Linked DNA regions of Homo sapiens. The protein of the gene in region 1 purifies or fractionates together with the protein of each later gene. This does not show direct contact. Each region holds a gene or a part of one and is shown in the gene's direction. Other genes may lie near its edges. The genes, in order: GLT6D1, ALG9 and PRXL2A.

Region 1 (3,350 bases):
GATGAATCCAGTGGGATGATGCACTCAAACACGGAGCTGGGCGCGCACTAGGTGCTCTCTAAGCATTAGGCATTACTGCTCGGCACCTGCTGCCGGCGCCTCAGTAAAGCACTCCCTGTTTAACTTGGTTCTTGTTCCACAGAAAACGCCCTGATGTTATAACGAAAACAGACTGGCTCGCTCCTGTCCTATGGGAAGGGACTTTCGACAGGCGGGTCCTGGAAAAACATTACAGAAGGCGGAATATCACTGTGGGCCTGGCCGTCTTTGCTACTGGCAGGTAGGTGCCACTCACCTTTGCCCTTTTTTATTTTGGGAAAATGTGGATCAGCATTCACGAGCCTTTAACCTCCAAAGAGCCAACCATAATTAAGCATAATTAGTGATAACAATAGCCACGATTTCTGGGGAGAAACAAACTTACCTGTCCAAACCCAAATAAGGGACTCAAAGACCTGGAGAACAGTGAAAGTGAGACTTTTAGTGACAGTCTTGCAAGATCGGATGTCTGATGGGCAGGCACACCCAGCACAGTTTCAACTGCAATTTATCCCCTAGTGCACAGGTCCCTCCCTCAGTTCCTCATAGGCTGAGTACTTGGGGTCACAATCTTCCCAGACGTCGCCTATTTGTTGTTGGGCAGGGGCTTTAGGTGTTTTCTTTAGGGTGGTCTTGCTGCATTTTGTTGCAGCCCACAATGCATTGCAATCCTAGTGAGCTCAGGGGCTCTTCAAGTATCTGACTTATGACCTAAGTAGCTGAGCAGGCTGATAAGAACAGACAAAGTGAGCTATTTTGCAGACTAGTAAAGTTTTATCTTAGACTAAACTTTTTTGGTTTGGGTGAGGGCAACTAAGGCAGGAGGCCGACAAGCAGGCATTGGCTATTTAAGTGGGGACCTAGTATATCCTGTTTCTTTTGTAGTTTGCTGACCTGAGCCGATTTAAGGCCCTTTGTCTTGGAGATGGTCTACTATAGACACGATTTCCTTCAATTTCTGGCTGTCCTGTACAAAAGGTGTGCTGGGTTTCTCTGTCGATGGCCGAGTCCTTAACACCAGTGGGAACCTTTTGACTCATACCCATTTAGCTCCTGCTCCCTTTCTTCACAACAGCCATTCCAAAACATGGTGGCTTTTCTCAGGCCCTCCAGGTCAGGACATTCCTTCCCACTCACCAACTCAGCTGAAGCTGTGGGCCCGACTCCTCCACGCTTGTACATCCCGAGTTCCTTAGCATCAGACACACCCATGTGAGTGCATTCAGCCGCCTCTTCTCCTGATCATGTTTAGAAAAGTAAGTGTCGGCCGGGCACAGTGGCTTATGCCTGTAATCCCAGCACTTTAGGACGCCGAGGTGGGTGGGATCACCTGAGGTCAGGAGTTCGAGACCAGCCTGGCCAACATGGTGAAATACCATCTCTACTGAAAATACAAAAAAAAAAAAAAAAAAATTACCTGGGCGTGGTGGCAGGTGCCTGTAGTCCCAGCTACTTGGGAGGCTGAGGCAGGAGAATTGCTTGGACCCAGGAGGTGGAGGTTGCAGTGAGCCGAGATCACGCCACTGCACTCCAGCCTGGGCATCAGAGGGAGACTCCATCTCAAAAAAAAAAAAAAAAAAAAAAAGAAAGAAAAGAAAAAAGAGAAAAGTAAGTTTCTTCCCCACTGTGTGTTTCCTAGGTTTGCAGAGGAGTACCTGAGGCCGTTCCTACACTCCGCAAATAAGCACTTCATGACAGGCTACCGAGTGATCTTCTACATCATGGTGGACGCCTTCTTCAAGCTGCCTGACATAGAGCCCAGTCCTCTTCGAACGTTCAAAGCATTTAAAGTGGGCACCGAGAGGTGGTGGCTCGATGGCCCCCTGGTGCATGTGAAGAGCCTGGGTGAACACATCGCCAGTCACATCCAGGACGAGGTGGACTTCCTCTTCAGCATGGCTGCCAACCAGGTCTTCCAGAATGAGTTCGGGGTGGAGACCCTGGGCCCGTTGGTGGCCCAGCTCCACGCCTGGTGGTATTTCAGAAACACCAAGAACTTCCCTTATGAGAGGAGGCCGACCTCAGCAGCTTGCATCCCGTTTGGACAGGGAGATTTCTATTATGGCAACTTGATGGTTGGTGGCACACCCCATAATATTTTAGACTTCATCAAAGAATATCTGAACGGAGTTATTCATGACATCAAAAATGGACTCAATAGCACTTATGAAAAGCACCTTAACAAATATTTTTACCTCAATAAACCCACCTAGCTGTTATCACCAGCATACAGCTGGGATCTTGCATTTTCTCCTCCTCCACAGATCCAATACGTCAAGGTCGCACATGATTCCCAGAGGAAATTATGAATTACGCCATGAGGTTTATGACGAATAAATGAATCACGGCAATTTCTTATAAATGAGGGAAGTCTTAAGACCTTCCATTTTTTAGAGACATACAAATTTACATCCTTCCCAAATAAATGTTTCTTCTTGCCATTTTGAGCCATCTTATTTGGCTAATGTAGGATAAAGAATAAAAGGATAATTACTTAATGTTAATACACAGTAATGTTATTATCTATGTATTGTAGACAATGTGAAAATACATTTGACATAGAATGAATATTTTTAATGGAGAAAGACTCTAGTTGAGAAAAAACATTCATAAAATGGAAAAGTAGTTCACGCAAAGGAAAAAATAAATGCCAGGCCACTCACTGAGTAGTCACTGTGTTTTTCCACACTGGGATATGTGTGGCTTGTGGTCGACCTCGCCTATTGTCTCAGTCTGTTCGGTGTGTGATTCGACACAGGTGAGCTAGAGGAATCCAGCCAAAGCCACGTCTTACTATTACGGTTTCAAAGTGAGATATTCAGTTCCTTTTGTTAAAAAGCTATAGATATTGGCCGGTTGTGGTAGCTCATGCCTGTAATCCCAGCACTTTGGGAGGCCGAGGCAGGCGGATCACCTGAGGTCAGGAGTTCGAGACCAGCCAGCCTTGCTGACATGGTGAAACCCCATCTCTACTAAAAATACAAAAAATTAGCTGGGTGTGGTGACGGATGCCTGTAATCCCAGCTACTCAGGAGGCTGAGACAGGAGAATCGCTTGAACCTGGGAGGCGGAGGTTGTAGTGAGCCGAGATTGAGCCATTGCACTCCAGCCTGGGTGGCAAGAGTGAAACTCCATCTCAAAAAAAAAAAATCTGTAGGTATTTTATTTTTTTAAAAAAGATATTTACTGAGCTCAGCGGTAAAGGTGCTCTGCCAGATGCAGACAGGGATAGAAAAGAGTTTGGAACACCTGTGTCCCTGGCAGCCCACACTCTGGCAGAGGTTGAGTCTGTGTGCTAGGAGTGCGTGTTC
Region 2 (3,653 bases), on another chromosome or scaffold:
GAAACTCCAGCTAGAAGAGAGAAGACATTCTTGACCCAACAGTAGTGAAAGTTCTCCACCATTATGTGGACACTGGGGAAGGCTGTGGTTAAAATGTCTATACCAGTTTCCTTTATGCTTTCTGTGGTTCTGAGAGCATAGGCCCTAAAGTTCTTTGTAGTTTGCTTCATTTGGCCAGAGAAGAGTCCTGTGTAGGTTAAAGGGAAATCTGGTTAAGATGAGTCATGTTGCTCCATTTGAGAAATGGCTTCAGTAGCTTGGCTTTACTGGGTAGTAGTTTCTTATGCTTCATAAAGACCCTGTGTCAGTCATTAATGATTAAATTAAAACTTGTTTTTTAAGTGTTGACTTTAGCCTTTGCCTTTTACGTTTGAAATAGTTTTATAGATAAAGATATGTTTGAGGGTTACTCCGGAACAAAGTATTTCTCCCATAGTGTGTTCTCAGTGCCATATATTACATTTCATTCTTTTTCTCTACACCTGATAATTTGCTTTATTTGATAAGTCTCTCTGCCCACATAGTAATTGACAATAAGCATTGGCACTTCTCTGGTTTTTTGATGATATGACCATTTGGTTGTGAATTTCACTGCTAACAGTTGGTGAAATGGGTCAAGAGACATCTAATTATAAATTTCTCAATGATTTTGGACTGACTTGTGACCTCTGCCTCTGTGCTCCCTGGTTGAGGTTTTAGCAGAAATATTTTTTCTTCAAGAGAAATGTTTTTCACATGATTTTCCTGGCTTGTTTGTTTCAAGTACATTTAGCAATATTATCCCCCTGTGTTTTTCTTATTCTCCTTGTGTTTCTGACAGTTGGCAGCTTCAGTTCATTCCATCAGAGTTCAGAGGTCAGTTACCAAAACCTTTTGCAGAAGGACCTCTGGCCACCCGGATTGTTCCTACTGACATGAATGACCAGAATCTAGAAGAGCCATCCAGATATGTAAGGGCTACATTCTCTTCTTGCTTCTCTGAAAAGAATTCTATGCCTAAAAGTCTGTTGGTGTGTATATTAGAGCATTGATAAAATGAGAATTTCTTAGAAAGCAATTTTTTTAAGGCCGGGTGCTGTGGCTCACACCTGTAATCCCAGCACTTTGGGAGACGGGCGGGATAATTGCTTGAATTCAGAAGTTCGAGACCAGCCTGGGCAACATAGCAAGATCACATTTCTACAAAAAATTAAAAAATAAGCCAGGTGTGGTGGCTTATGCCTGTAATCCCAGCCTTTCAGAAGGCTGAGGCAGGAGGATCACTTGAGCCTCGGAGTTCAAGGCTGCAGTAGGCCATGATTCCGCTACTGCACTCCAGCCTGGGCAACAGAGTGAGACCCTGTCTCAGAAAAAAACCGGATATTTTTTAGGATGAGGGGTATAACAGCTTTTGTTGAAAAACAGTAAACAGTATCACTTTTATTTTCAAATTAACCTCTTTATTTTCTATGTAAAATGTATAATTTAATTTTGAAGGTTTTGGGTAGGCTGAAAGTTTTCTTACGGTAGAAGTTTGAACCATTATTCTGAAACTCATATCATTCCTTGGCCTATTAAAATCCTTAATGAGGAACTTTCAAGTTATCAGGTGGACCTTTGACCTAGCTATTAGTATATTCCGGTTTTAACAAATGAACAGTAAAGACTGTTTCCATACTGAATGCCAGGGAGCAGCCTCTGTCAGGGCCATGATCTTCTCCCTACTTGTCTTTACACATTCTGAGATCCCATGCGAATTTTACTTCAGTTCCTTTGAAAGATGACACTTTTGACATTTGATACCTGTGAAATCTTTGATAATGAAAAAGGTAAGAAGTAATAAAGATAATGCTCCTTTTGGGTCACAAAGACAGTGTAAGATCGTTGTCTAGAATTATTAGAAAGCACATTTTTTGATAACCTGATAACCTGTCCGTTAAAGAAATATGTAACAGTTTAAATGTCAGCTATATTTAATTTACATTTTCTTATGTCATATGCTTAAAATGTAAAATAGCAAGACTTCCAATTCTCTTCTGAAGCAAACCTGCAGCCACATCTGGTCTTTTGTCTCCCAGATTGGGGCTGGTTAGAGTTCCATGGAGACCCTCAGGGTTTATGAGTGAGATTCTTATTGTATGAGCTGTAACTATAAGCTATGAAAATGGACACTTAAAGACACAGCCTTGAGCTGTTCCCTTGTAAGACAGGCGTTTCTGCCACATGGATTGTATTAGAGCTTTATTCTTTTAATTTAAGGCTCTGATTCCTGTTACAATGGAAATACCCTTGGGCAGGGTAGACTGTTACAGGTCATTTTAATTTTATCTGCAGATATGAGTCTCCTGAGTGCAGGGCATCATTCTAGAGAAGCTGGACAGTCAAAGGGTGGGAAAATACACTGTCATAGGGGGACAGTATGAATTCAGAGTGATGTTATCGGAGCTTTGCTTTAGGAAGAGGTAGTAAAAATGGAGTAGTAAAAAAAAGAGCGTGGACTTTGGAGTTGAGTAGGCCTGCATTCAAACCTCAGCTCTGTTGCTAAACTTGATAACCTTGGGCAAATTAGTTAGCTTCTCTGTTTAATTTCAGTTTCTGTCTGTAAAATGGCACCTACTTTGGAATTATGATATTTGATATTATATCTCTCTGTAGCAAAAATGCAATGTTCTTATGCTTGCACAAGTGTTCTTAATCTGATAATGGTATATTAGACAGATTCCAGGTAAAGAAACCCAATCTCTCCCCTTCCTTCTTTTTATTGTTTCCCATCCTTGTAATTTTATTCCAGTGTCTCCAGACTCATCATTGCGTTTTCCACCCCAGTGACTTCGCTTATATTGGTGACTATGCCTGAACTACCCTTGTGTCTCTTCTCACACTATCAAAATTATCTTCCTCTTTGAAGTGAACTATTTAAGTCCATATTGAGCAGACCTTCCTTTAAGTGTCTTCAGTATTTATCTGTGCAGTTCATTTAGCCATTTAATTTTCTTGGTCTTAGTTAAATATTTCTGATATCATATCTTTCCACATCAAATATGTGAATGCCATGAAGAGAATGACTGCACTTTGTTTCTTTTGTGTTCACCATAGTGTCTAGGACGGTGTCATGTACCCAGTAGTTCACTTTTACATGCTTTCTCAGTGGATAATGAATATTCATCGTCATTGTGGTAATGATGTTGAGAGAAAGCTGGCTAGAAAATCTACAGTGGCCTTTTGCACATTTCTTAGGCTTTTATCACTGGTTGTCTTAGTTAGATCATATTTCCATATTCTCTGCTGTCAGACAGTGTTAAATTTGATTAAATGACTCTATATGAGCTTTACCCGAAAGGTGATGATTTTTCAGGATGCCAGTAGGAGTCACCAAAATGCTGGCTGATAAAAGCAGGGAAAAACAAGTGATTTATGTCTGCTGGGTAGCAGCTGTGTCCAGCCCTTTGAATGCGAGGATTTTTTTGCTTATCTGTGGTGGCAGAATCATGAAAATTAGGCATGGACCTTTAGCTCTGGGTGGCAGGTTTTAGCCAGCCTTTGGCTTCAATGCTAAGTGCTCCAGCCTGTCCCGTTTCTATTGTGCATGGAAACGAGGAAAGTTGTATGACTTTTTTTATTTCACTATTTTCTTTACCTCTGGGCTAATCAAGAATTAGGAGTGAATAAGTGTA
Region 3 (3,653 bases), on another chromosome or scaffold:
CCCCTCACAGCCCCCACCCTTGGCAGTGACATTTGGATTTCCAGGGCCTTTCCTGATCCTTTAGAGACATCCTCTCCCGGCCAAGTCCTGCAAGGGAGACTTGAGTCAGAGGTTCGATGGGCTGGGGTGAGGTGGGCCACACAATTACCACACCCACTCCCAGGCCTATTCCCGGTGATCTAAGCACACAGAAGCAGGCTGGTACTTAGGGAAGAAGGCACCAGTGTATGCCAGAGCTTAGGATGGCGTGAGGACCAAATGGAAAGATAGATATTGTAAGTGGTTGTTGGGAGAAGGAAGGCTGGAGGTGGGGGTACTTTGTGGGCTGCTTCCAGGAGCTCCCACCCACAGGCACAAGTCTTCCTAGCTGGCAGAAGAAGCCAGGAACAAGGCTGAATTCTGACAGAACCCGCCTGGAGCTCCATTTCAGTTGCAGAGACCTTTATCTTATGCAGCTGTCTTTTGCCCAGCCTCCTCTGCAGATGCCATAGGACCTCCTCTTTCTTTTCTTTTCTTTCTTTTTTTTTGAGACTGAGTCTTGCTCTATGACCAGACTGGAATGCAGTGGCACAATCTCAGCTCACTGCAACCTCCGCCTCCCGGGTTCAGGCGATTCTCCTCCCTCAGCCTCCCAAATAGCTGGGATTATAGGCATGCGCCACCATGCCCAGCTAATTTTTGTATTTTTAGTAGAGACAGGGTTTCACTGTGTTGGCCAGGATGGTCTCCATCTCTTGACCTCGTGATTCACCTGCCTCGGCCTCCCAAAGTGCTGGGATTACAGGCATGACCCACCGTGCCCTGCCAGGACTTCCTCTTTCTTTTTTTTTTTTTCTTTTTTTTTTTTGAGACGGAGTTTCACTCTTGTTGCCCAGGCTGAAGTGCAATGGCACGATCTCGGCTCACCGCAACCTCCGCCTCCCAGGTTCAAGCGATTCTCCTGCCTCAGCACCCCCGAGAAGCTGGGATTACAGGCACGCACCACCACGCCCGGCTAATTTTGTATTTTTAGTAGAGATGAGGTTTCTTCATGTTAGTCAGGCTGGTCTCGAACTCCCGACCTCAGGTGATCCGCCCACCTCGGCCTCCCAAAGTGCTGGGATTACAGGCATGAGCCACCGCGCCCTGCCAGGACCTCCTCTTTCTGATATAACACCTGCATTTGTTTGGCAGACATCTGTGTAGTTCTGTTCACAGGAGAAAAAAGTCAGATTACTAAACACCAGTGTTTAACAGTGGCCATCAGTAGGTGGTAGCTTCAGAGAGTATTTGCTTTCTTATCGACTATGGTTTCATGTATTCTCTGTTTTGTTTTTTACTATAAGCATATTTTGTTTTTATATAAGGGAGAAATAAAGCTCTTCTCAATTGGGAGAAATTACTGCCTGCCTATAATGAATGAGGCCCTGCTGGGCACTGGCTGGGGGCTTGATGAGTAGGATATGGTCCCTGTTTTTGGAGGGTCGTCAAACTAAAGAGGAAAGAAGATAGGGGAACAAAACAGTGCGGTTGGTGTTCTAAGTATCCTCTGATCACAGAAGAGAAAGCTGCCCCTACCCAGGGACATGATCCTGAGCCACCTGGATTGTGAGGGAGAATCAGGCATTGATGAGGAGGGGAATGAGGAAGTAGTCTGCCTACAGGGGACATAGCTCGGCACAGCTCCACAGAGCTAGGGGCTGCAACTTGGGGCATGAGAAGAGAGAGCAGCAAGAGAACCATTTGAGAAGGCTGTCCTTTCTCTGTCATCACTCCTGATGCCCTGGTGAGCTCCACGGTGCAGGAACCTCCATGTGTGTGCTGCATCCCCAAGTTCTGGTGGCAGCAGGTGCTTAGCAGCCCTTGTCCAGTCTCGCCTGTGACACTGCTGCTCCCTTCCCCTGTCCTGACCTCCTGGTTGGCTGTCCTGCCAGAGCCTTGCCTGGAAGATGAAATTCCAGCTACCCTGTGGGAGCAGTAACGCCTTCTTCCTTCTTCTCAATCTCCAGAAATGTCTTTCCTCCAGGACCCAAGTTTCTTCACCATGGGGATGTGGTCCATTGGTGCAGGAGCCCTGGGGGCTGCTGCCTTGGCATTGCTGCTTGCCAACACAGACGTGTTTCTGTCCAAGCCCCAGAAAGCGGCCCTGGAGTACCTGGAGGATATAGACCTGAAAACACTGGAGAAGGGTAAGTGGTGACCCTTCAGGTCTCAGTACTTTTCCAAGGAGCTGGGATACAGGCTTACTGCTTTCTTTCTAAACTCTCTCCTTTTTTTAATTGAAAAGATAATATAACAACATTAGGAAAAATTTAATAACAATTTTTAAACTAGGAATAATTCTGTTACCCTAACACAGTAATTTTGATTTTGGCATATTCCTTTCCATGTGTACATATTACGTAGTTGTGCTTGGCTTAGGTGCTGTTTTACATTTTAGCTTTTCTTATCAAAAGCATTTCTCATTCTCTGTTGTTGTCTCTGTAATTATAATGATAAATTGCTCCATAATATTTAGTAATAATTACAATCTTTTACTAAACCAGTGCTTCCAGAGTGTATTCTGAGGAATTCCAGGCTTGTGGGATCGTCAAACTAAAAGGAGTTCCTGAGTGAACAAGTATGGGAGACACCTTTTATCCAATTCCATGCTCCTGATGCTCAGCACAGACATATGCTTATTAGAATGAGGTGTCTGGATTGCTGCTGATTCAGGCATGGCCAGCCCCTCCCTGTGAAGAAGCTGTGGTGTCTGAGGAATCACTTCAAGGTCACCCGTTAGAGCAGACCTGCCTATCTCCCTCTTCTGGGGGACTGCTAGAATCCATTGTGGACAGCTTAGAGCCACACACCCAAATGTGTTAGCTCTGCCTCCTTGCTGTGTGCTCTCAGTGTTAGAGCTGTAGCTTGGTGGGATTTCAGTCATGCCAGTGGTGTGGCAAGAGAGTTGGAGTGGTGAAGGTCTCATTGATGGCGTGGTCACCATGTTAGCCCCCCAGGTGGAAGTCATCGTCATCTGTTTAGTAAGTAAGGAAGCTTGCGAAAGGAAGGCAGGAGATTGTGCAGGTTTATAGTAGGTCACCTTAGTAAGATACTAGGAGAGAGAGAGACCTGTTAAGCTTTGTTCAACCCAGGGTTTCCCAATCTTATTTGATTACAGACTCTTCTCCCCACCCTCTCACCCACCTGACCCCATTTTTTTTTTTTCCACATAACATCTACGGGAACATGGATCCCTCTGGGAAATACTAAAATAATTAAGGGCTCATATTTATTGAGCCCTCACCAACTCTATATTACCAGACATTGTGGTGAGCACTTTTATATTCATCTTTCAATATGCCCTGTGGCCCAAAGTGGAGCTACTAGATATTTGCATTTTACAAATGAGGAAGCTGAGGTTCAAAGAGCAAAAATAACTTGCCCAGAGTTACACAGCTAGATTCAGATTCAGTTGGACCTTAGAGCTGGGCTTGTTGAACTACAGTACTGTACTACCCCAAAGCATTTTATTCCTAGGCATCTTCTATCCTCTCCTTCGTTAATAATATTGCAGGTAACATATTTAGGTTAAAAATTTGAGACTTTTTCAGTTTGGGCCATGTTTCTGTTCTGAAGGATTATTATACAATATCTGATGACATCAGCAATAGACAAAATGGCCATTTTTCCAG

Evidence for each region.
Region 2: the proteins of GLT6D1 (region 1) and ALG9 purify together in Homo sapiens (affinity purification with mass spectrometry; one large-scale study listed by BioGRID and IntAct). This does not show direct contact.
Region 3: the proteins of GLT6D1 (region 1) and PRXL2A purify together in Homo sapiens (affinity purification with mass spectrometry; one large-scale study listed by BioGRID and IntAct). This does not show direct contact.

Annotation. Positions count from the first base shown.
Region 1 is NC_000009.12:135,622,999-135,626,348, reverse strand, and holds the end of GLT6D1 (putative glycosyltransferase 6 domain-containing protein 1), read left to right. Parts: intron 1-142; coding exon 143-280; intron 281-924; exon of another isoform or gene 925-964; coding exon of another isoform or gene 965-1,017; intron 1,018-1,143; coding exon of another isoform or gene 1,144-1,251; intron 1,252-1,678; coding exon 1,679-2,252; 3' UTR 2,253-2,701; downstream 2,702-3,350.
Region 2 is NC_000011.10:111,833,462-111,837,114, reverse strand, and holds part of ALG9 (alpha-1,2-mannosyltransferase ALG9), read left to right. Parts: intron 1-820; coding exon 821-950; intron 951-3,653. UniProt on the Homo sapiens protein: Mannosyltransferase that operates in the biosynthetic pathway of dolichol-linked oligosaccharides, the glycan precursors employed in protein asparagine (N)-glycosylation.
Region 3 is NC_000010.11:80,418,478-80,422,130, forward strand, and holds part of PRXL2A (peroxiredoxin-like 2A isoform 1 precursor), read left to right. Parts: intron 1-1,522; exon of another isoform or gene 1,523-1,988; 5' UTR 1,989-1,990; coding exon 1,991-2,168; intron 2,169-3,653. UniProt on the Homo sapiens protein: Involved in redox regulation of the cell. Acts as an antioxidant. Inhibits TNFSF11-induced NFKB1 and JUN activation and osteoclast differentiation. May affect bone resorption and help to maintain bone mass.